Linked DNA regions of Homo sapiens. The protein of the gene in region 4 purifies or fractionates together with the protein of the main gene of each other region. This does not show direct contact. Each region holds a gene or a part of one and is shown on either strand. Other genes may lie near its edges. The genes, in order: GPR89A, VMA12, TM2D3 and TSPAN17.

Region 1 (7,628 bases), on a different chromosome or scaffold from region 4:
CTTGATACTTTCAGAATTGTACAGAGTCTTGACCTTAGGACTTAAGAGTGTACTCTGGAACTGATAAGTCTTATGACGGTATAGAGGGCTCAAAACATGAGTTAGTTAACAGTTGCTTTTAAAAAAGTGACTTCTGGGTTGAAAATTAGCTACTGTTAAAAAAAAAAGATGGCCATCAGCAGGACAGTTATTAAAGAATTAACTATAAAAGACACCTTTCTTGGATCATTTATTCACCCTTTTAATCATTTAACAAATATTTATTAGTGCCTAATATGTGCCAGGTCCAAGGGATAGAATGGCAAATGAGAGCATGAATGCTACTCTCAAGGAGTTTATAATCTATGGAGGAGATAAACAAGTAATTACCAAACAATGTGGTAGTGTTGTTACAGGGGAAGTAGGTGAAGGGTACTATGGCAGTAGGTATAGGGACATCTAGTCCAGTCTAGGGGAAGCTTCTTGGATGTTCAACTTGAGATCTGAAGGCTTAAAGAAGGGGAGGGATATGAGGAAAAGGCCCAGAAAGAGAAAACACACTGTGTGGAAATCTGGAGGCACCATAGCATCGCCAGGTTAGGGAACTAAAAGAAGTTCAGGAAGTCTAAAGAATAAATTGGAGCCACAGCTGAAGAGAGAAGAGCCAGGGTCCCATCAATAAGGGACCTGAAAAGCCATGTAAAGGAGTTTGAACTTCATCCTGTGCCGTGGTGAGCAAGATTGAATACGTGACCTCTGATTTCAGATTTCATTTCAAATAAACCTTTCAGTTAATACAAAACAGAAAAAATGAGCAGGGAGGGGCGCAGGGGGCAATGGTGGTGTTTCCAAGGTAACCACACCTCTCTAGAGAGGTGCTTTTTATTAAACAAATATTCACTACAACTCTACTATGTGCCCGCAACTGATCTAGATGCTGGTGAATACAGGAGAGAACAAGACAGACAGTATCTTGGACCTCATGGACAGATAACAAACACATGAATATACAAATGAACCATAGTAATAAATGCCAAGAAGAAAATAAAACATGGAAATGAGGAAGAAGGCAGCCGAAATGGAAAGCTACTTTGGTTGTGGGCAGGGTGTCAGGTAAGACCTTCCTAAAGCGACATTTTTATTAATACCGAAAGGATGATAAAGTAGCCACATAAATATCTGAACAGAGAACATTCCATGCAAAGGAATCTTTGGGTCTTTCTTCCACATTTGTAAAAACCAGGTTTAACAATTAATTACTGCATGTGGATGCATGTGTGAAGTGAAAGTCTATGATTATAAGGCATACAAAATTAGAAAGCCACTTCCTCGGTTCAACGTATCAATTATATCCATGCTAAAAATCGTAGAGGCTGCAATGCAAAGCCAATTTTCTACTGACATTCTTATCTTTATTCTAAATGAAAAGAAAAGCTAATTAAATATTGTTATTTTTCTTAAATTGGTACTAAGGCTAAAAATAACCCTGAGTTGTCACCAAGGGCACTGGGTAGTCTTAGAAAGGTTTTAAGCAGAAGAGTTACATGTCTAGGTTTTTTTACATTAATACATTTGAATATTATGCAGCCAATAAAAACAATACTTATGAAAACTATAGAAAAGGTGGTAAATTTTAAAAATGAAAAAACTATTGCATTAGAGTGGTAGGATTATGGATGGCTTTTCCTTCTTTCTTATTTTCTTAAATATTGTAAACAAGTTTTTGAAGAGAAAAGGACAATGCTCCGCTCTACGGAGACGAGTATTAGGATGAAGCAATACAAAAACGGAATCAAAGAACACAAATTTAGTTCACTTTAAGCCCCCAAAGGTAACTGCTTCTGTTATTTGCCGTTTGAGAGAAAGAACAAGTAAAAACAACCACACACACACAAAATCTTTATTGGAAAGATGGGGGGAAGAAGGTCAACAGGCAGTCTGAGCTTCACAAATATTGGCCAACAATTATTTATTGAATGCCTGCACTTGGAAGTGGGGATACAGCTATGAACAAGGCAGGATCTCAAAAAACAAAATCAGAAACACAGACATAAATGATGCCAGTGCTATGATGAATGCTAGGAAGAAACAATAATTAACAATAGATTACATGGTAAAAGCAAGAGGCTAACTAGACGAAACTTCTATTGAGCAGAGACAGTGTCTTACATGTTTTTACGCTCAGAGCTTTATATAATGGTCGATAAATGTTTGTTGACTGTACAAACAAATGAAGGTGGCCAATGGAGAAGAAATGAGGGTCAGAAAAACATCCGGAAAAGGTGGGTAACTAAGCAGAGGATAAAGGACGAGGTGTCAGTGCAAAAACGAAACCTTATACTTTCAAGCACAGGTATTACCTTATACTGATACTTTGAAGCAGCAAATTTCTCCACACCCGGATTCAGGATTTGACATCTAACAGCAAAGCCTGCACTGACGTGTCCTCAGTATCCAGTATTGGCGCGTCGCACACCGCGCGCCCAGAACCACACAGGCTTCCCCAGTCCAGGATCAGTTGGCGCAGCCCGGAAGCTTCGAGGAGCTCCTAGAACCGCCGCCTTAGCTGGCGGCGCCGGCTCTTAGCCTGGAGGTCGGCGGACCGCTTCCAAAAGTGGACCGAAATTCCGGGGATGGATGCCGGGTGGGGACGCGGACGGCCGCAGGCCAGTCTCCTGACAGCCGGGGCTGAGGGAACCGGCCGCAGCAAATCGCACACCCTCTCTGGGTGCCAGAGTGACTAGCGCAGGACGCGTAAGAGAGGAGCGAGACCCCGGACCAGCCCGCACCGCGGAGGACCGGAGAGGGCGATTCGGTAAAGGGAGGCGGACGGGTGTCGGGGCGGGAGGCGGTGACTCACCTGGGAGGTAATCATGATGCTGGAGTCGATGAGGAAACTCATGGCGAAGTGTAAGGAAGGCTCCTGCCTCCACTTCCCACTCCCCGAGGCCACAGCACGCTGGGGCCACAGGCCCCCTCACACGGTCTGCCTTCTCCCAGGTGCTGCAGCCGGGACTGCGGCTCTCCAGCCCGACGCCATCAAGCTGCGCCCCAGTCAGCCAATCAGCGTCTACATCCACAGCCCCGCCTCGGGCTCGGGGTGGGTGGGGCGGACGCTAGGCTCCCGCCGCGGAGGCCCCAGGGGCGGGGCTTATTAGGGGCGGTGCTAAAAGCAGCAATGCAAGGTAGCGTTAACGTTTCTGAGGCTGAAGGAGGTAGGGCCTGAGAGCTAAGTGGTAATTCTGTTTTGTAATGATCCTAAGATAATAATGGTAATTATAGTAAGTCGGGCATTGTGTCCTAAATGTTATAACTTTTACTTGACTCGGCAAATATGACTGTACAAAGTGAGGGAAGACTGGAAAGTCAGATGAGATATGAACAAATATAACTAACCAAATACATTTCTGTGACAACAATGAAAAGCACACTGTCTGTAGCAATTTAGTGATAATATTGTACTGCATATCAGTCAGGCCACAGGTGGAGTACTGCACTCCATGTACCACACTTTGAAGAGATTTTACAGGCCGGGCCGGCTCACGCCTGTAATCCCAGCACCTGGGGAGACCAAGGCGGGCGGATCACCTGAGGTCGCAAGTTCAAAACCAGCCTGACAAGCATGGAGAAACCCTGTCTCTACTAAAAATACAAAATTAGCCGGGCGTGGTGGTGCATGCCTGTAATCCCAACTACTAGGGAGGCTGAGGCAGGAGAATCGCTTGAACCCGGGAGGGGAGGTTGCGGTGAGCCGAGATCGCGCCATTGCACTCCAGCCTGGGCAACAAGAGCGAAACTCCATCTCAAAAAAAAAAAAAAAGAAAAGAAAAAAGAAGAGAGAGATTCTACAGAGACATATTGGAGCTCGCTCAAATGTGAGCCACCAGATAAGGGCTGCTGGAAGGAGGCGAAGAAAGATGACTCAGAACATGACATCTGTCTTCATGTGAAAGAATGGGTAGAACTGATGTGGCGCTACGAATTATCTGTAGGGCAAAGGACTGGAAGTTAAATGAAGATAGATTTTAATTCAAAACAAGGATCAGTTCTTTAAGAGTCTGAAGAAGGGTTATTTTAGGAAGTAGCTGCCTCTGCCCCCTTCCCACCTATTGCAGTGGATCAAATATACACTGAATCACTACCTCATTCATTCAACACTCATTTCATGAAGGCTTAACGCATTGCTGTGGGGCTTACTCTGCCGCCGACCTGGGGCCTAGCTAGGCTTTGTAGTCTATATAGTCTCATAGTCCTGCAAACTGGCTCCAGCCCAGGAAATCACCCTGTGTAGGAGTGGCTGCAGTCAAGACGCAGGAAGACAATCCTGAGGGGACCTGACATCCAGCATCTGAGTTCAGACTACTATAGTTTGAATAAGTGATCTGCAGATTCATTATACACAAGGGAACATGTCTTCCTTTTGTTGGATTGAACTCTGTGATACCAAGCAGTCAAAACTACCTGTCAGATGTCCAATCCCTGATCCAGAATTTCAAGGAGCTATGGAGGCAGCTGTACAATGGGAGTGTCATAAACCAGAGAACTTTGTGTCCAGGCTATATCTATTAGGTAAGCAGGTAGATTCCCACATAACAGCACCTAACTGACATTCAAGAGTGTGTAGAGTGCAGAGTGCTGAAAGAGACTATCAAGGCAAGCAGTTTACCTTGGTGGCTTACTGGGGTGCACAGTGGGGATCAGAATATCAGTAACGAGGAATAGCAGAGAAAGGTGTGCAATACCTGCTGGCCTAAGGCCTATGCAAAGCTTTGGGTGACACTATTCAGAATGCTCCCTACTGTACCACTTGTGTCCAGGTAAAGGACAGGCCTAGGTGATTCAAGCGACTGCTTTATCCCCTGATTTTGATTGAGGAATGTCTTTAGAAACCTTCGCACTGCATTTAGTATCCAATTGACTCTCCTTTCAAAGCAAGTCTGTACTGCTGGTGGTGGACTCTGACACTAAAATGGCTTGTCCTCCCATCTCTACTGCTGGTAATATTCTCCCGATCCACTCTAGCTGCTGCCATCCTCTTAGAATAGTGGGATCTTTTGGTTCTGCCTCCATGGACAGTCACACCATCTGGGCTCTGAGTCCCCAGTTTGTGCTTTTTCCAAGGGAGCTTTTCAAAATATGTCATGTTCATAACTAGTAGCCATTGTTTGCCACTCATCCAGAGATTGACAGCCAGTCCCATAGATGTGCTACAAAGAGTCAACTGACAAGATGATCAGTCTGTGTCCTTTGGATGAGTGTTTGCTCACACCACTTTACTGTCCTTTTTCATAGCAACTGCAGTGTTCATACCTACGGTACTCTCACACTTCCCAGCACCATCCACATACTGACAGCTAACTACTTCATCCCCTTCCTCCAAATTAATGCAAAGGACTGGGCCCAGGAGTTGACACTAACATTAGATCCCTGGGAAACACCCTAGTACTTCTTCTCCGTGCACTTACATAGCACCTGCCCATGCCAGTGGCTGGATGATCTCTGTTAGGGATTTTCTTTTGAAACTTTTTACTTATTATGACATAGTTGTAGATTCACATGCAGTTGTAAGTCTGGGATCGTTTGAGACATATGGTATCACCAATTCCGTGGCATCCTACTCCCGCTGTCTCCCTTCATGGATAGACAACCTATCTTGTAGTTTTGCCCACTGTGCCAGGTTCACTGAGTCTCTGAACTCCCCTGTGTGCCCCACTAAGTCACCAGTGTAAGCTGGACAGGAAACCCCAAGTATTCAGAGGAAAAGTGTTTATTTCCCAATGGTCCCATGGACAGTATCTATACTTGATACCTAGAAAATATATAAGTGCAGTTTTCTCAAAGTGTGGTTCTCTCATGACTTGGGGAGCTTATTTAAAATGTAGATTCATAAGTCCTAATGTAGACCAGTGGACTTGGGATTTCTGAAAGTGACTCCCAGGAGGAATCTAGGAGTCAATTAATTAATAAATAAAAATTATATATATTTATCATGCATAAAATGATATCTTGAAATATGTATACATTGTGGAATGGCTAAAGCAAGGTAATTAGCATATATATTACTTCAGATATTTATTTTTGTGGTGAGAATACTTAAAATCTACTCTCAGAGATTTTCAAAAATGCAATACATTTTTATTAGTTACAGTCACCATATTGTACAATAGATCTCTTGAACTTATTCCTCTTATCTAACTGAAATTTTGTATCCTTTGACCAACATCTCTCCAACCCCACCCGACTATCCCCCACCAGCCCCTGGTAATCACCACTCTACTCTCTGCTTTTGTGAGTTCAATTTTTTTTTAAGAAGGAATCTGCATTTGTAACGGCATCCCAGGAGATTCTTATGCATACTGACTGGGGACTGGTTGTGAGACTCTGCTCCCCATCTCAAAACTTTCCTAGAGTGAGTTAGCACCTTCACACTAGGAAAATGCCAGCTCCGATTTGTCTAGAGAAAGGGGACTGAGGGCCAGAGTGGTGCTAGCTTTGCTCTTTGCTTTTTTCCACTCCCGCACCCTTTCTCTAGATATGCTCACTCTATAGCCTCAGGAAGCCTAAAGATCTTTTCCAACCACTTGCGCTTTGGCTCAAGAATTCCCCTTCATCTTCCTTGAGTCTACTTTGAACCTCTTCCCTAGTTGGTTCTCACTTTTCCAGACCTTCTTGGAGGTGCATTCCAGTCCTTTCCTCTTATACAATCTCATTTTGGATATATTGACCTTGGTGCTGACTTGGTATGCACCGCCTTGTCCAGGGCCTTGACTGGTTCATATGAGTTAGAGTCAGCTCTGTATCAAGTGCTTGGTTGTTCTTGAGGTCGTGTTCCTGAGGAAAGAAGATTAAATAGTTGTGTGGTTTTATGCAAGTTACTAAACTCTCTGTACTTCAGTTTCCTCATCTAAAAAATAGAGATAGTAATAGTATCTTATCTCATAAGGTTATTATGAAGATTAAGTAATATACATAAAGCCCTCAGGAAAATAAGCACTTTATAGTAAGTATGCAACAATTTTTACCCATTATTATTATTATTATGAGTTTACATTCAGTTTTCCTTCATCATTAGTTTCAATGTATATTTATTTATTAATATTTATAAATGTATATTTAAAAGTTTTGGTTGTCAATTATTCAAATTATACTGAAAAGACTGATGATCGTAGAGCTCTCAAATTTGGAAAGATTCAGTGGCATTATTTGAAATATATAACACCAACTTTTTCCATTTATTAAAACTAATTTTGGGATTCTCTGTTGATATAATTATCATGCAGAATGAATTTGATCCATATATTTTGTGAACAAAGGGGAAGAATATGTAGAGATTAAATTTAAAATGGAATATATTAGTTGAAGTTCAAAGTAAAGGATGTTCATATTCTTATTGTATGAACTGTTCCAAACTTCTGGTCCCCTGCCGTCTGTGCTCAGGCAGAGCAGAAAGCTCTCCCTACTGCCCCACCACTTCTTGCTCCAGGACTGACCTCTTCTTGGGATAACTACCAGCAGGGACATTTGCTTATTTTAAAGAAGTCCCCATCTTTACCACTGGATTGAGATTTGCCACCGTAATGTTAAGACAGTTGCAAAGGAGTACAACACTGGCATATTTCCAAAGTCTGGGATATTCATTCTTATTCTTG
Region 2 (3,570 bases), on a different chromosome or scaffold from region 4:
TTCCCTGGCCCCACTTTTTATGCAAAGGGATTCCCTACGGGAAAGGAGTTTAGCTCAGGCATCCCTCCCTTCCACTGGCCTCCAGGCCAGCCTAGATGCAGGTCCTAAGCAGACTGGGGCCTGGCTCCTGCCACCCCACACCCTGACCCCTTTGGGGCATATGCTCATTGTTGTGGCAGGTGGTACCTTCAGAAGGATGAGATGAGGGTCATGTTTTCCTCCACTCTTGCCAGGCCTGGTCCCCAGTTCTCACCAGCTGATGGCCTCCTCCTTCTGAAGGGGCAGGCTCCTGTCTCCTGAGGTCTCTCCAGGCCATTACCTTGCTAACTGCTAAGTGAGGTAGGAGAGGAGAGTGCTGCTCCTCATCTAGACTGCTGGAGAGCCAACTTCTTTATGGGTCAGGGCCCCCTCTCTTGACCATCGACCACCTGGACAAATTAATCAGAACTACGGATGTGAAGAGGGAGTGGCATTAAAGTAATGAAGCAAAGATAGGAAGCTGGGGCTTATGTTGATTTAATTTTCACAAAGATCAGATTGGATGCCCTCTGATGTGGGGCTGTGGAGACAACCTGACAGATCTGGGATGGAGGCAGGTATAGCAGCATTGGGTTTTGGTATCACCATCACCTGTAATACCAACTAATCTCCAAATAAAACCCAAACTCTGTACCTTAATCTGGATTGTTGTGCTCTGCAAACGAACGGGGACGAGGGCCGTTTGCCATGGAAATTTATCTCCATCACCTAATCCCTAAATAGGGCCAGGTTCCACACAGATACCTCTTGGTGGGAGGTATTACCCAGGCTTCAGCTGGGATTAGAGGGATAGTTAATTGAAGGGTTTAGGACTCTGACTGACAAGACCCTGGGGAGATGAGAGCCTCTGCTAGCACCCCCAGCTCCTGGTCCCACTGAATCTAGGACATTCCAGTCACCTCCACCTCTGGAGCTGCTCTGCTTTGGAGAGAAAACCATGGTGTTTGCGGTCTGCACTGGATTCAAATCCTGACTTTGCGATGTAACTGTGGCAACTCTGGAACTCTATGTGACTAAAAAATGGGGATACTTATTTGCTCTCTGTTTGGGGTATAAGAAATAATGTAGGTAAAGGGCTTTACATGGTGTGTAACACATCGTAAAAACTCAGTAAACGCTAGTTCCCTCTCCAGACAGGCCCTAAGAAACTGGGAAGGCCCTAAACTTCTTGTTCTTCCCACCTCCTGCCAAGCAGTCCCTGGACCCAGAGTGCATTACAGAAAGCATGGCACAGTGAGGCAGGAGTGGCTAGCAGATGAGAGAGCTCCCTTCTATATGCTGAGAACTGGAGGATAGGGCATTTGGTTCTCCCCTCCCAGTGCCCCCTGCTTTTTCATTGAGACAAGGTCTCACTCTGTCATCCAGGCTAGAGTGCAATAGCATGATCTTGGCTTACTCAGCTTACTGCAACCTCTGCCTCCCAGGCTCAAGTGATCCTCCCACCTTAGCCTCCTGAGTAGCTGGGACTACAGGCGTGCGCTACCATGTCAGCTAATTTCTGCGTTTTTTTGTAGAGATGGGCTTTTGCCATGTTGCCCAGGCTGGTCTCAAACTCCTGAACTCAAGCATCCTCCCACCTTGGTCTCCCAAAGTGCTGGGATTACAGGCATGTACCACCACGCCTGGCTAATTTTTTTGTATTTTTAGTAAAGATGGGGTTTCGCTATATTGGCCATGCTGGTCTTAAACTCCCAACCTCAAGTGATCCGCCTGCCTCAGCCTCCCAAAATGCTACGATTACAGGTGTGAGCCACCTCACCTGGCCCAGTGTAGCTTTTTAACACAAATTTTATATAGCTCAGGTTACTGGAAACACTGTAAAATGCCACCTACTTTTTCTTTTCACAGCTGACACTTCTCCCAACTAACAGAAACTGGCAAACATTGTAGAGGAAGTGTCCACTGAGTGAATGAGTATATAATTTATGAAAACAGAAAAGTGCTTTGGAAAAAAAAAAAAAGACAACAGGAGTACATACAGTGAACCAAAAAGAGTGTACCAGGAGGAGCAGACCCTGAACAGTTAGAACTATGGAAATCGCTATGCTTTGTGTTGTCACAGGAGTTAAAATAGGAATACCCTGCATACAATAAATATTTATTGGATAAATAACTAAGCCTGATACCCTTTTCAATGCGTTATACAGACTCTATCATCACACCACTAATCTAAGTTCTCAGAAGTTAAACATTACAAGACTTCAGAACAACATAGGCGTCTTTGGCTCCATTTAACAGAAGAAGGACCATAGTGATCATTTAATCTCTATGAGTCTGTCTTATCTTCTGGAAAAGGGGCCTAACACCATTTCCTTTTGCAAAAAGGTAGCTGCCTTGCTTCCAGTTCTACCATCCTCTAGCAACCCATCTTTCTCTTATTTGATGTCTCTGATCAGCTCCTCTTCCAGCACAAACTGGAGAAAGGGGATCCTTTCTGTTTTCTTGGAGGCTTCTGAACTCAATTACAGGTCTGCATTAAAAATGTATGGAGAAAGCTGGTGATCAGTTTGTACATATGGACAAGTTCAAGGCAGTATGGTCTACTTCTGGGAAGGCCTGGATTCCATTTGCTCCTGATGGAAAAACCCTAGTCCCAGCAGTGTTTAGAATGAACTGGAGAAGGCAGATGGGTACCAGATTCAGGAAGAGGTACTGATAGACCAAGACCAGTTCTTTCTGTTTTAAAGATGTGTTATCTCAATCTCCTCCAATGCTCCCTTTGGAAATTCACAGAAGATTAGGGCTCCCCACAGAAACAGCAGCTGGCCTGGGCTGGTCTTCTGACTAACTGGAGCTGAATACAAAAAGTCTGATGGGTTGACTGAGTCGGTGACTGCCAATTGGAGCCTGAAGCCCCCAAAGTCTTCTCTAGACTTGATGATGAAGCACCAGTTACAGTTCTCCCAGCTCGCCTTCCATTGCCCGCACCATGACATACAGCTCGGCCAGACCCACCACAGAGGCGACGATCAATGCAGCTAGCACCCGCTGGAGATGGGGAGAACCAGGCTTAAGGGATGCAGGCCAACAACCAGCTCTGTACCCCAGCAACTTTAATGAGGATGGAGAGCCCCCCAACCACCCTCTAAGTTGGGGGAGGGGAAGAAAAGAGAATGTGGCTTCTCCTGGGGTTATTACCTAACCTCCCGTGACTGCTGGAAAGCTCTAATGCTCCCCTTATTAATGGCATAAATATCTGTTCAATACCTAACCTGTGCAAGGCACTTTCACATACGTCCTCCCTTACCCACTAACACCCCCACCAGGGGCACCCTGCCCTGCCCAGTGCCTACTCACCGAGGCCATTTCTGTGAAGATATATTGGCTTCCAAGGTAAGTGCAGACGAAGGCAGCAACCACCGTGACAATGAAATTGAAGATGGTGATGACCAGAGCCTTCAATGATCTCACTTTGGGGAGGAGCCAGAGAGGGCACCTTTAGTTCAACATTCTCTAGGAGGTGCTCTTATCTCATGGCTCCCCCACCAACTGGGTTTCAGTCAAACAACAAGCCTGAGTGTCATGACCCAT
Region 3 (7,033 bases), on a different chromosome or scaffold from region 4:
ACATTAAAAACATAGAAATATATCACTCACACCACATCAACTCCTACGGACAAAAGGGCTTTTTCTAAGCCCTGCTCCTTTCTGAAGCACACACCACAGCTAAATGTACAAAGAGCCATCTGCTGGTCCAACATAGCCAACTCCAATGAGCAGGACGTCTATCAGCGTCCATATTCCCAGGCCACCGAAGCTGAAGAGCTTGCCGAGGCCTTCCCGCCACTGGCCCAGGTAGAAACGGTCTGCTCCAAACCCACCGAGGGTGATGCTGCGATGGCAAACAGACAGGATTCCATGAGACCACCTCCACCCCAGCTGTGGCCAGTCACGGTTTAATCACCACATTATGTCAGATTTGAGAAAGGGCTTCCCCTGATCGTAGCCCTTAACTGGAACACAAGTGACTATTTCACAAACTGACACCACCAAATAATTACGGGCAGGAAGACAGTTTAAATGTCAAAAGTAAACATACAATTTTTAGCTGTACTAAAAAACCAATGTTTTCTTTTTTTAAAGTTATCAATCTCATTGCTTTTTAGTCAAAATAAAGCAAAGACCCAGTCTAACAGGAAGTGCACTAACACGGGGTCAGGGCTGGAGTCAGGAGGAGCTCACCACCACCTGGACGACCTGGATCAAGTCATCCATGTTTTCAGTCTATTTTTTCATTCATCTCTAAAATCTTAATGTTAGGAATAAATCCTTAAAAGATTTAAGGATCTTTTAAATTCTAAGATCTAATAATACTGAAACTATATTATGGAAAATTTCTAAACACCTAACAATAAAAAGTAAAGAGAACAGTACCCATGACTCAGCTCCAATAATCAACACTTGGCCAGCTGTGTTTCATCAAAACCCTCCTCTTTCCCCTCCAGAGTACCCTGAAGCAAACCTTGGGCATCATCTCATTACAGTGATGATTTTAAAAGAAACCATGTTGCCGGGCGCGGTGGCTCACGCCTGTCATCCCAGCACTCTGGGAGGCTGAGGCAGGCGGATCACAAGGTCAGGAGATCCAGACCATCCTGGCTAACACGGTGAAACCCTGTCTCTATTAAAAATACAAAAAATTAGCCAGGCGTGGTGGCGGGCGCCTGTAGTCCCAGCTGCTCGGGAGGCTGAGGCAGGAGAATGGCGTGAACCTGGGAGGTGGAGCTTGCAGTAAGCCGAGATTGAGCCACTGCACTCCAGCCTGGGTGACAGAGAGAGACTCCGTTAAAAAAAAAAAAAAAAAAAAAAAGCAAAAAAAAAAAAAAACCATGTTGAGTGCTGAGAAGTTTTAATTGTTGAAAGTATGTTACAGTATAGTACTGTAAGAGGTTAACAATGTAGGGAAACCAGGTTAGGGGTATATAAGAACTCTACTATCTTTGCAACTTTTCTGTAAATTAAAATTATTCCAAGTTTCAAACATTTATTTATTTTTTTAAAAAGCCAGTTGTTAATTTGAACCATTGTCAGCAATGGTTACTAATCTTTTTTTTTGAGACAGAATCTCACTCTGTCACTGAGGCTGGAGTGCAGTGGTGCAATGCCAGCTCACTGCAGCCTCCTCCTCCTGGGCTCAAGTGATCTTCCCATTGCAGCCTACCACGCAGCTGGAACCACAGACATGAACCACGATGGCAGGCTTTTGTATTTTTGGTAGAGATGGGGTTTCACCATGTTGGCCAGGCTGGTCTTGAACTCCTGACCTCAAGCAATCCGCCAGCCTCGGCCTCCCAAAGCGCTGGGATTACAGGTGTGAGCCATCGCGCCCGCCCTATCTTATTTTTGTTAGTCTCATTTTCTATCCTGGCACCCTCTTTTACTTTTCAGTTACACTTTTCCTGCCAGGCAAGATCCTTCTTTCCTCAGCTCAAATTCTAATGCAGTGGTTCTCAGCAAGGGGCAATTTTGTCCCCTAGGGGACACCTGGCAACATCTGGAGACACACTGTCACAGCTGCAAGGGATGGGGGGTTTGCTACTGACAAGTAGTAGGTAGAGGCCAGTGATGCTGCTCAACACCCTGCTATGCACAGCACAGCCCCAAGACAAAAACTCATTCAGCCCAGAACGTCAGCAGTGATGAGGCTGAGAAATCCTGCCCTATGGCTGCAATGCTGCAGGCCTCAGGGTCTCAGGCACGAACTCAAAACTTCAAGTGTAGGCAGCGTAACCTTTTCACTAATCAGTTAACCAGGGTCTTACCTGCCCTTCCCTTTGGTGGGAAGAACTGCTATAATTTCTTAAAGTACTGTTGAGAAGTTTAACAAACAGCACATTTCTATGTAAGAAATATAAGCCTATAATTATCTGCTGCTGATGAAATTATAGGTAATTTTTAATGTTTTTGTCATTTTCATTTTTCCAGTTTTCAGTGTTCATCATGTATTACTTTTTATAATAGTTACTTAAAATTAAAGATATACATCATAAAACTGCCTATTTTGGATAGTCCACAGCATTTTACTGATTCGTGGTACATTCAGAATGGTAAACGTAATGTGCAGGCATCTTGGGAGAAAAGCTAACATGCCTGCCAGTCAACTCCACGGAGGTACTGGTCTGATCATCTAAACTCTTCCAGCTGTTTGCTAGAGTCTAACACACGTGGTAGGATCTGAGTGAAGAATGAAGGGGACTGAGCTCAATGTCTGAAGATTCCACCAATCCCAAAGAAATGCAAACGGCCTTTTACACTTACGAGTAACAAGGCTTACCTTAGAGCCAGAGCCGTAGACCACTTATAGCCTCCAGTCCAATTGCAATATAGCATTTTGGGAAAAGTACGGTTACCTTAAAAAAAAAAAAGAAAGAAAAATACAGGGTATAAAAAATACTCTCAGAAAGACTTAATTGTAACAAATGGGCTCAAAATTTAAAATGTGAAAAGTCAACTCTCTTTACGGTAATACATGTTGAAGTGAAGAGTACAAAGCGCTTACCATCTATCTACATAGATGTAATATTTAAATCAGCTAAGTTAGGATTACAACGTGAGGAACATGAAATGCTCACCCACATATCAAGACCTACGGGGAAGTTACGAGTATATAAGACAGTGTAGTCTTGAGGCATAAAAATCACCCAATAGGAAAAGAAGAGAAAGTCAAGAACCAGAAATATACAAACACTTCATGTATGAGTGTTATGACAGAGGTCACACACGGATCAACAGGGAAGAGTTGAGACAACTGGCCATCCATGTGGGGGGACAATTAAAGTAGAATCTACCTCACACCATCTACCAGGACCAATTCCAGGTGGATTCTAAACCTAAATGTGAAATGTTATACTTACAACTTTCAAAAGAAAATGTAGCAAATTGTCTTTATTAACCTGGGGTAGAAAAAGATTTCTTAAAACCACCACAAAAAAGGACTAACTCTAATAACTTCCAGTAATTATATTTTTAAAGTTCTGTTCATGAAAATATACAATAATGCAAAAAAAAAAAAAATCAAAATCTGGGAGAGGGTTTCAGGGACAGCACAGGTAATATCCAAAATATAAAAGAAGTCTAGACAACTTTAAGACCAAATTTAAGAATAACCACTCTTGGAGAGAATATGGCTCATCAGGAACAGTTACATAGCGCGGGTGGGAATGCCAGTCAATACAGCCATTTAAAGAATGACACACGCTGGAAAGTACATGCTGAAGAAGCTCTTGCACCTGTGCCATTGGGAGACAGGCAAAGAAATTTGAACAGTCACAACAGCGGAAAACAGCACTTAACCAAATATATTGGAGAATAAACTGTGATACAATCTTACAATAGATTATTACACAGAAGTAAAAAAAAGAAGAGAAGTCACGTGGATGAATCCTAGAGCCACAATGTTTAGGAAATAAGCAAGTCCCAGAAGAGCACACAGCCTGAAATCATTTTACACGGTTCTAAAACATGCATTATTGAATATTATTTTATTACATATAGACAATAAAACTACAGAAAAAATTTAAAAGGAAGTGAAATAAAAAATTCAAAAGGGTGGTTACCTTGGAAGAGGAGGAAAGGCAACCAGGTGAAGGCAAGCACTCAGGCACTCAGGCGGCCGCAATGGTATTGGTGCTGCTTTCATTGTTATTTTGGGTAAAGGTCAATTACTGTGTATTATGCTTTATACTTCAAATGTTTTTCTTATTTTATCAAATATTACATTTAAAAAGAACTGCAATTTTCTGGATGCTTTACTTTAGTACGTTGAGTTTATTGATGATGCTTGGCACATCTAAAGAGCTGCTGATAAATGTTTCTAATTAAGTAACTTGACTCGCAAATTTCTGGTTAAAGTCCCTTCAATAAACTTGGAGAAAAACATTTTGTTGACAAATGTCCTTGAACTCTGACCTACCCAAGCAGTGGACGTGGTCCCGCACCGTGCAGTTGGCAGGGTAGCGCTGCCGAGGACAGGACACCGTCATGCAGCTGGTGGAGTTGGTACACTCGTAATCTGTTTCAGGAAGCTGCCAGCAAAATCTGCAAGTCATGTTAATGATGAAGTTCTTTTGGGATTTGAAGTCTTGATCCTATGTAGCAAATGACACAAAACTCATCAATCACAATGGTGTAGTCTGTTAAGATGTCAGTAAGACTACACAGTCACATGGCACAAAATTCCGTAAATGCTTGTATTTAGGACCTAGGAGTAAGTGCCAGAAAAACAGTTACCAAAACAATATGTATGTAAAACAAATGCCTATGATGTGACCTCATAATCATAAAACTACACACCCAAACATATGTACTTAAGGGAAAAAACTAGATAAATTCACATCAAAATAGCAAAGGTTATTTCAGGGTGATATAATTATTTCATAACTTTTGCTTAGCTAAATTTTTCATAGTAAACGTATACTTTTATAATGCAGAAAAGAGGAAAATTTATTTTAGAAAGTCACAATCACGGATGGCTGGAAGGAACTGATGAATGCATTTGTTGAAGGTCACTGAGCTTCAAGTGAGGAGTGGAATCCAGGTCCCTGAACTCCAGCCTGATGCTTCTGTAATGGTTAACACACCGCCTTGCTTCCGAGTTGCCAACCTTCCCTAACATCCCCTACCTTGCACAGCCTGGCAACTCAGGGTTGTTACAGCTGCTCCTACCACCAGGGCATGTGGCATGTTTAATCCAGAGGCAGCCCAACTCAGAAGCACCACATGGTGTGTGGAGGCTCAGTGAGTGTTCACTGGTGGCCAGAGAATTTTTCATTTCAATTTTAAAAGCCATTATTTTGTATTCTGCTTACAAAAGTAGAATGTTCTTTGTATGTTACATATTTGAAGATTATAGACAAAAACCTATAGGTGTTCAGAGCTAACCACTTTTAATCTTCTTTCCGTTTCTTCTACATGTATATTTATAAATTTACTAAAATGGAATTATACTGAAAGCACTTTGTAGTCTTTTTACTCTACCTGACATTACATTGCAGTGCATATTTTTCAAAATCATTTTTATGTGGTCACACATCTCTGGAAGCATCATGTATATATATGTATACATATATATACACATACACACATTATTTTTTTTTCTTTTTTTGAGATGGAGTCTCGCTCTGTCGCCCAGGCTGGAATGCGGTGGTGCAATCTCGGCTCACTTCAACCTCCGCCTCCCAGGTTCAAGCGATTCTCCTGCCTCAGCCTCCTGAGTAGCTGGGATTAGAGACGCACCCCACCACGCCCAGCTAATTTTTGTATTTTTAGTACAGATGGGGTTTCACCATGTTGGCCAGGCTGGTCTCAACCTCTGACCTCAGGTGATTCACCTGCCTCGGCCTGCCAAAGTGCTGGGATTACAGGTGTAGGCCACCACGCCCGGCCCATGTTTGTTATTTTTTTTAACATTTCACAAATTTGCATGTCATTTTTGCAGAAGAGCCATCCTAATTCTCTCTGTATGGTTCCAACTTTGGCATATGCGCTGATGAAGCAAGTACTATTCATTTTCTTATCAATGCAAAAACCACTTTTTATGGAAAACATTCAAATATGGGTAAGGCATCACTTGATTTAGGCAAACAGTTGGATCTGCAAAATAATACGTTTACATCTGCCTATTTTCAGTGATGTGCTTAAAACACACTTTTTTTAATGGTTTTTTAAAAAGTAGGTGACACATGTACATGGAACACATGTCAAGACACAACAGGAGAGTGAGAAGTGAGCCGGCCTCGTCTGGCCCAGCCGCCGGGAGCCCCTGCCCTCCCCAGGCCAAGTACGCTCTGTGCTTCCAGAGAGAGCTGATTCTACACATAGGCACATTTATGTCACCTACATTTAATGTTCCCCAATACTTTCACTTAATTTTGGACATCTATCAGTACATTACCTCTAGAGCTGCCTAGTTCTTTTTAATGGCTACAAGGTGTTTATTCTATTACACGTGTACCATAAATTAAGCAGTTCTTAGACATTTCACTTCTTTTGAATCTTTTGCTTTAATGAGCAATGCAGCTAAAAAATAAGCACACTTATCTGCATCCATGTATAATGATATCTATAACATAAATTCCTACATGTACAACTACGAGCTCAACGATTGTGTGCATGTGTAAGTTTAACAGATATGGCAAATCGCCTACAAGAGGTTGATCAATTTGATTACCTATTAATAAGATATGAGCATCTGACCCTTATACTCTCACAAACTCAGAGTTAATCAAATTAAAAAAAAATTGCCAATCTAAGGGTTAAAAATGTATTAATTAAATACTATGAGAAAACTTATATGTTTTTCATGTTATATATCTATTTGTATTTCCTTTCCTATGAACCATCTGCTCATGTCCTAACACTGTTTTTCTACAAGACTGTCATCTTTTCCGTGTGGGTTTTAGGAAGTGTTTATATATTACTGATATTACTGTATTATTTGTCACATATTCTAGAAACGCTTTTTCCTAGTTTGCCATGTCTTTTGCCTTTATGCTTTTTTTTTTAGGTCATGCAGAAATCTCCAATTTTTAGGAGTCAAATGTATCAATTCTTTATTTTATGGCTTCTAAACTTTATTTCATACTTAGAAAAATATTCTCCA
Region 4 (7,430 bases):
ACTCAACCCCATTCCTCCCCGAGCTCCTTCCCAGGATGCTCCGCCTTCACCTGCCCCGGGGATTGGTCCAGAGGCAGCCAATCAGAGCCAAGGAAATACAATTAAAGCACTTTGGGAAAACAGCTGGGAAGTGAGCTCTCAGCCTCCAGCAGGAGTTCCTGGAGGGCTGTGTTCCTGGAGGGACCACCTGTGGCTGGTCCCACGGCCTCCAGCCTCAGCCTTCTGCCGTTCTTCCTCCTCACGCTCGTCTTCCATCCCATCATGACGCTGGCATCTCCCGATCCCCACCCAGACCTCATGCTGGTCCCACACCCCTACGTCCACCCGCCTGCAGCAAACACCTCCACGACCCACCGGCACTGATCGCCGCCATGCCGGGGATTCGCTGGTGAATAGGACGGACTCGACCCTCACGGAGCTTACACTCCAGCAGGGGAGATGGACAGTCAGTGAGCAGACAAGGAAACCTCAGATGCAAACAGACCCCTTAACAAATATCGAGCGGGGCGACGAGATGGGGGATGCTGGGGTTGGACGCCAGCTTTAGAGAGGGCAGAAGGGAGGGTGGGGGCATTTCAGCTGAGGTTTGAATGATGAAAAGAGCAAGAGGGAAAAGCCTGTTCCAGGAGGAGGGTAGGGCACAGGCAGAGGCCCTGACACAAGACCACGTCTAGTTCAAGGAACAAACTGAAGGGCGGACAGCCCGGCCCCGCGGGGCCCTGGAGGCCGACAGTACTCTAGGAGCAGTAAGAAACCACGAGCAGGATGGCCGGGCGTGGTGGCTCACGCCTGTAATCCCAGCACTTTGGGAGGCCAAGGCAGGTGGATCACCTGAGGTCAGGAGTTCGAGACCAGCCTGACCAACATGAAGAAACCCCATCTCTAGTAAAAATACAAAATTAGCCAGGCGTGGTGGCACACACCTATAGTCCCAGCTACTTGGGAGGCTGAGGCAGGAGAATCGCTTGAACCTGGGAGACGGAGGTTGCAGTGAACCGAGATCGTGCCATTGCACTCCAGCCTGGGCAACAAGAGCAAAACTCTGTCTCAAAAAAAAAAAAGAAAAAAGAAAAAAGGAAACCACAAGCAGTTTCCAAACAGAACAACACCAGGGTCTGCCTGACATTAAACATGAAAACCTCTGTGCCTGTTCCACAAGCAGCCTCCCTTAGGCCACCTTAACCCAAATCTGAAATCCTCCCTCCAGCCCCCAAGTGACCCAGCCCAGTCAATTCAGCCTCTTGACTTTCCCAGCAACCTCCCTCACCTTTCCCACCTCACCATCCCAGCTTTGCCCCAGCCCTGCCCCCATTCCAAACCTCCAGGCCCTGCCCCTCATCCACCCTCCACACAGCAGCCAGGCAAGCGGTCTCCAGAACAGAAGCCAGATCAGACCCATCACTGGAAGCCCTCGCTTCTCCATGCCACCTTAACATAACACCCCACGCTCCGCCCCAGCAACAAACCCGGGTCTCTCACGCCTGCTCCCCCTCGGTATTTGAGGTTACTTCTGCTCACAGCTCTGCCTCACCTCCACCCTCTGCCCACTAAGCCGTCACCTTGGCTCTGTACTTTCTGGCTGTGTGACCCTAGGTAAGTGACTTAATTTCTCTGTGTCTATTCCTTCAGTTTCCCCATCTGTAAAATGCAGATAATAAGGCAGTTGTGAGAATACAACAAATTGAACTCATTGTATCTGCCTAACAGCCCTCACAGGCAGATTCTTTATCGTCGTCTCCCAGGCAGGCAAGCTGAGGCCCGGAGAGGAGAGATGACTTGCCCAAGGTGTCCCAGCCAGGCCTGCTACAGCCAGGCCTTCTGACTTCTTTGCCAGTGCTCCCACACACTGCCCACACCCTCAAGAGCCTAGCGCTGCAGTGCAAGGACACCCACCACACCAGTGAGCTCGGTGACACGTGGGTGGGGGGCAGTGCCACTGAGTCTTGCTGAACACAAGGGAAAAGGCCTGGCATCTTGACCCAAGGCCTCAGGAGCAGAGACTGCAGAGGGCCACGGCTTTGGAGAGATGGGAAAAATGACCTGGCAGGGCCCAGGGGGACAGATGCCACCCTGGGAGGGGCACTAGTAGCTCCCTTCCCCGGTAGGGGCAGACCCGCCCAGGAGCCTCAGCTTGTCAGCTGTGGAATGTTGAATTCTGTTCCCCAAGGCCAGCTCCCAGGCTCTCAACCGGGGAGATCCTCTCCCAGCCGCCAAGGACTCGCCATTGTCCCTCCCTGCCCCTCCTGGCAGGTCAGCCTCCTTGTGCGGGACTGGGGTGGGCAGAGGACTGTGACCCACCCCACTCTGCAGGAGCCTAAGGTGAGGCACCTGACCCAGGTACTACTGGAAGGGAAAGGAGGCCGGGGAAGGGGCCTGGCGGCTCCCTTCACGCCAGAATCTCCTTACCGGCTAAACCAGGGGTGGGGCTTGGCACGCATCCCACATCCCAGGGTAGGAAGGAGGGCTGGGCGAGAGGGGGCAACCTGCACCTAGCACGCCCCTGGGGTCTTCAAGGAAACACCTTCCCTTTCTCCACCAGGCCTCGGGATTATTTAGGGAGACTCCCTACCCCAACCCCGACCCCACGCTGTCGCTAGGACCCGCCCCCAGCAATCCGGGCCTCTGTAGCTACCTCGGGTGGTCCTGGAAGTGGGCGTGGGTGTGGCAGAAGTGGGGGGATGGTCCCGAGCTCCAAACTCTTGGGGCAGGGAGTGGTCTCCCCCAGCAAAAGACTGAATCTCCCTCTCCCACCACCCCCCAGCACAGGGCAAGGCGCAGACCCCGCGCTCACCCAGAAGACAATGTTGAAGCCAAACAGGAAGTATTTCCCGCAGCAGCCGACCTCAGGTTCCTGGAAATGCTGGTGCTTGCCGGGCATGGTGAGCGGCCACCCGCCGGCCCGGAAACCGGAGCCGGGAGCCAGGCCCAGCGCCCCGCGGGCCGCCCTGGGCTAGAGCCGCCCGGGGCCTAGCCGGGCGGCTGCGGCTTCATGGCCTCGGCCACACAGAGCGCCGGTCGGGCCCCGCCCGCCCCTCAGGGACCGCCCTCAGCATCCAGACCTCCTTGCCCGGAGCCCTGCTGTCCCCGCCTCTGGACCGGGCCCCGCCCCCACAGCCCTCAGTCCCTTTGGAGTCCCGCCTCCTGACCTGGCTCCGCCCCCATAGATCAACTCAGTCCCGCCTGAGCCCCGCCTCTGGACCTGGCTCCGCTTCCCGAGCTCCGCCCCCACAGCCTGATTCGGACCTCCTCGCAGCCCCGCCTTCGGCCAGGCCCCGCCCCCGCGCAGGCCGCCGCCGCGTTTCCCAGCGTCCTGCAGACCCGCCCGGGACGCCGGCTGATGGCGCCGGAGGCCGCCGGGGTGTAGAAGCCTTGCTTCCCCTGCTGGGTACCAGCGCCATCCCAATCCCCAGCCTGCTGTTGGAGCCCATCCCAGGGGAAGGTTAACTGCTGCTCTGGCAGGCGAATGGGGAAGCTGGTCCGGATTGAGTTTTTAACACGTGCAGGACGTTTTGTCATTGTGGAGTCGCATCAGGCTCACCTTCACCCAGCGGAAATCCAGCTCTACTTATCCTGACTCAAACTCAGGCCAAACGAGGGCCTGGGCCTTGGTGCCACGCCGGCTGCGCCCTGCCAGGGGCATATGCCCCCCGGAACCTGGCTCAAGCCCCCTTGGTGGCTGAGTTTCCCCAGCCACACCCCCTGTCCTCCATACTGGCCAGGGTCCCGGTCAGGCTCCTTGGTACCCAGTGATCTCACATGAGCCCCTGTAAGACAGGACAGAGGCAGATCAAAGTTTGGGGGAACCTGAATCTTACTCCAGTTTGAAGCCCTCTTAAAAATAATTCCAACTTTGTTCAGAAGTATTTATTTAAAACAGGAACAGAAAGATGCTTAAGCTTTTATTATCAAGTTTATCCACTTCCACCACTTCTACCAGAACCTTGGTGAGGCCTAGCCCAGCATCCCTCCACCTCCACTTCAGTCTGGCCCTGAGGCAGGCAAGGCCCAGACAGCCCTGGTCACAGCTGGGGAGAAGGGGAGCGGCCTTGCAAGGCTCTCTCAGTCCTCAGCAACCCACGTATCCCTCTGTACAAATGATGGCGTTCACCCTCCAGAATGTCTGTGCCCTTGAGCCCACCACCCATGGAAGAGTCTGTCTCTCAGGCCACCTCACCTCCTTCCTGGGTGGAAACAGTAAACGCTGGACTATGGGTTTCTCCGCCTACCATAGAGCCCTCCTTCCCCGCCATGACTCACCCCACCCTCAGGAGTTTTTTCCACCCTGCTGCTGTCCTGTGGCCCCAGGACAAGCTAGGTCCTCAGACTGCCACCACTACCCCCATCTAGCCCCTAAGGCTCAGGCCCCAACTCATGTTAAAGAGTGTTTGCATTCCTGTTCACTTGAGGACAGGTAAGAACTAGGCTGTCTGATCCCCAGTCCCGCCCCATCCCCCAAAGTAATGAGGCTCAGTGGCGGCTGTCCCATTACATAGGAGGGGTGCCAAGGCCCCCCTCACACCACAAACTTGTTCTTGGCTAGGGAGTTGCTCTTGGTGGCTGTGTCTGCATGGGCCTGGTACCCAATGATGGTCTTTGGGGAGAGGCCCAGGCGCTCTTTGTATACACGCCTGCAGGTGCGGGGGACACAGAGGAAAAGAGACACAGGTAGTCATCAGAGGGTCCTAGAGATAACTTAGGCCACCAGACTCCTACCCTCATTCTGGCCACAGCCACACCTGTTGTGTCTTACCCATGTGGAAACCCAAAATATGACCCCCTTAATGCAAAAGGAGAGCTGCACTGCCGTAAGAGAAAGTTAGAAATCTGAACGCCAGACCTTCCATACAGGTGGGCAAGGCAGAAGGGAGGGAGGCTATGGAGACTTTCAGAGGTCTCCCATGCAGGCCAAGCCCCCTCCACCCACCTTCCCTCTAGCAGAGACCCAAGTCCCCACCCTGTGCCAGAGACCCTCCTCACCCAACGTGCAGCACGCCCGCCTGGTTTTCCGCCTCCCTCGTCCACACAGCGATCTTGTCCCCCTTGGTGCGGATGTTGACGACGGCCCCACATACCTCTCTGCTGTGTTCCTCAAAGCTCTCCCCGATCAGACACAGCAGCTGGACCCGAAGTAGGGGGTTGTGAGATCACCGGCTGGGACATAGGGACTGGCCTGCCATCCTTGAGACCACTGCCACCATGAGACCCACACAGCCCGTCTCTTCCCCTGAGGACCCTCCTCCTCCAACTCACCGTCTCCAGCCACAGCCGGTCCAGCTCAATGTGGCGCTGCTGCTTGGCCAGGCTGACCAGCCAGCGGCCACCCCGTTTATTCCTGCTGTCCTCCCACATGGGCTGGATGCCATCCTGCAAGGCAGATGGCAAGTCAACTGCCTCCCTGTGTTCAAAGGGAAATGGGGACCCACCCACCATCCCGGCCTTATCCGCTCTCTGCTGAGGCCCTAAGTAGGCCAGATTCTCTTATCCTCCCTTCCCTCAGTGCAAGCAGGTTCCACCCCCAGCCACTCAGCTCCCCCCGACAGACAGCACTGGTCACCTTGTATAGCCTTGTATATGTGCATGTCTCTTTTACTGAGTTCCTTAAGACAAGCATTCAAATCGGGGTGGATTAAGGAAGCCTCAGGGGCAGACCCCAATGCAGGCAAGGGGGACATCCCAGGCTTGGCTGCATGGTTCCCAGGCAGGGCAGAAGTCACTGGGGAGATCTCTAAACACAATGTCAGCCCTCCAGGGATGGGTGTGGCATCAATGAGTGTCCTCAAGCAATTCTGATGCCCTTCCCTAGTTAAGGAGCCAGGTCAGAAATCTCTCCCTCTCCCTCTTCCCGCCTCTTAAGGTCCTCCAAGGTGCGGCTTGGGCCTGACCTACTCTGTCCGGGCTCCTGTAGAGCATTTCCTCCAGTCAGAAACCACAACTCTGCTGAGAGGTGGCCCGTAGCTCCCCACCCCCACCCCTCTGAGGGATTAACGCAGTGGAGTCCGGGAGGGATCAACCCCTTGTCCCTTTGCGGGAGGGAAAGAGGAGAGCAGAGCTTACCTTGAAGAGGGCGTAGTCACAGCCAGAGGAGAGCTTGCTGGCCAGCTGGATGTGACTGTATAGCCTGGACAGAGCCCCCGACCCCATGCCAAAAGTCAAGGCTTTTTAGGGCCTGGTTCCAACTGGGTTCAGCCCTCCCAACTCCTCATCCGACCCCATGGCCTCCAAGCCTTTGCTTACACTGGCCTGCCACCTGGGATTCCACTCCCGTTTATCCAAACTCTCAAGACCCACCTTTTCCACAGAGCCTTCCCAGTGAAGGCTGAGCCAACCCCTGGGGAGGGTTTTAGACCCCCTGGTGCTCCCCCCTCCAGCTACAGCCGAGGCCTTCTCACCCTCCCTAGGGCTTGTGTAGCCCTTTTCAGAGCCACTCCCGTGAGCACCCGGACACTGAGGCAGCCGAGTCCTCCCTTTGCAGCTGAGACAGGTTCAGAGAGGGGAAGGAACTTGCCCAGGTCACAAAGCCCTGGAGTGGCCGAGTCAAGGTCAGCTTCCTGCTTCTCCTGCTCCCCAGGCTCTCTCCCTGAGCCCAAAGAAGGTGGTGGGGTGGGGGGTGGTTGTGCCCTATACCCCCTGGGCAGAACCCACAAAGCCCCAGCCCTCACAAAGGCTGAAAGGCCCTAGGGAGGGCTGGCTCAACCCGGAGAGAGGGAGCCCAGAGCTCAGAGCCCCCCAACTCTAGCCCCACTGGGGACAGACACTCACGCCCAGAAGTCCTCCACAGTGTCCACCTTGGTGACCAGGTGCAGGTTGTCCTGCCAGGCCCGGCTGCGGTCATTCTTGAAGAACCACAGAGCCCACCTGGTAGGGGAAGGGGGAGGCAGCCAGGAGGAAGCAGAGAGCCAAGTCCACCCCCGGGGCACCTGGACTGACAGGGAGGACCCTCCCCTTCAAGGGCGAACTGGGAGATGAGATTTGGGGCACAGCATTCCCCTCTCAGGTGAATGAAATCAGTTGTCCTGAAGGGCAGGGGAGGAGTGGGGGTGTTTGACCCACAGTCTCTGCGGGGTTAGGGCTGGAAGGGCCAACAGGGCCCAAGGCTTAGGTCAGCCCTGGCCTCCCACGGATGAAGAGCTAGGGCCAAGAGAGGCGGGGTTGCCCAAGGCCACGCTGCCAGCACAGAGGCTGGCCTGAAAGCAAGGGGCTGTGTTCCACTCGCAGGCTCCTGCCTACCTGTTCTGCAAGGGGTGCAGCTCCAGCTTGACTTCCATGGGGCCCCCCGTCCGGGCCTTCCCTCTCAGAGACAGCAAAGTCCTGGGAGAGTTTGGAGACTTTTCTCCTGTGGGCGTCCTCTCTGCTGCCTCCTCCTCCTTCTCCTCCTCCTCCCACTCTCGGATTCCACCCTCAGCTTCACTCACCTGAGCCAAAAAAAGGAG

Evidence for each region.
Region 1: the proteins of TSPAN17 (region 4) and GPR89A purify together in Homo sapiens (affinity purification with mass spectrometry, with the first as the bait; 3 studies listed by BioGRID). This does not show direct contact.
Region 2: the proteins of TSPAN17 (region 4) and VMA12 purify together in Homo sapiens (affinity purification with mass spectrometry; 3 studies listed by BioGRID and IntAct, with this or other methods). This does not show direct contact.
Region 3: the proteins of TSPAN17 (region 4) and TM2D3 purify together in Homo sapiens (affinity purification with mass spectrometry; 3 studies listed by BioGRID and IntAct, with this or other methods). This does not show direct contact.

What each region holds. Positions count from the first base shown.
Region 1 is NC_000001.11:145,603,387-145,611,014, reverse strand, and holds the start of GPR89A (Golgi pH regulator A), read right to left. Parts: upstream 3,028-7,628; 5' UTR 2,882-3,027; coding exon 2,840-2,881; intron 2,398-2,839; exon of another isoform or gene 2,340-2,397; intron 1-2,339. UniProt on the Homo sapiens protein: Voltage-gated channel that enables the transfer of anions such as iodide, chloride, bromide and fluoride which may function in counter-ion conductance and participates in Golgi acidification.
Region 2 is NC_000017.11:28,360,614-28,364,183, reverse strand, and holds the end of VMA12 (vacuolar ATPase assembly protein VMA12), read right to left. Parts: intron 3,531-3,570; exon of another isoform or gene 3,450-3,530; coding exon 3,337-3,449; intron 3,028-3,336; coding exon 2,932-3,027; 3' UTR 501-2,931; downstream 1-500. UniProt on the Homo sapiens protein: Accessory component of the proton-transporting vacuolar (V)-ATPase protein pump involved in intracellular iron homeostasis.
Region 3 is NC_000015.10:101,642,380-101,649,412, forward strand, and holds part of TM2D3 (TM2 domain-containing protein 3 isoform a precursor), read right to left. Parts: intron 4,521-7,033; coding exon 4,346-4,520; intron 2,784-4,345; coding exon 2,708-2,783; intron 266-2,707; coding exon 100-265; 3' UTR 1-99. UniProt on the Homo sapiens protein: Probable positive regulator of Notch signaling.
Region 4 is NC_000005.10:176,643,064-176,650,493, reverse strand, and holds the start of TSPAN17 (tetraspanin-17), read right to left. Parts: upstream 3,011-7,430; 5' UTR 2,879-3,010; coding exon 2,792-2,878; intron 1-2,791. Other genes in the region: EIF4E1B (eukaryotic translation initiation factor 4E type 1B), read right to left, coding at 4,514-4,628, 4,978-5,117, 5,251-5,364, 6,055-6,118, 6,760-6,855, 7,228-7,412. UniProt on the Homo sapiens protein: Part of TspanC8 subgroup, composed of 6 members that interact with the transmembrane metalloprotease ADAM10.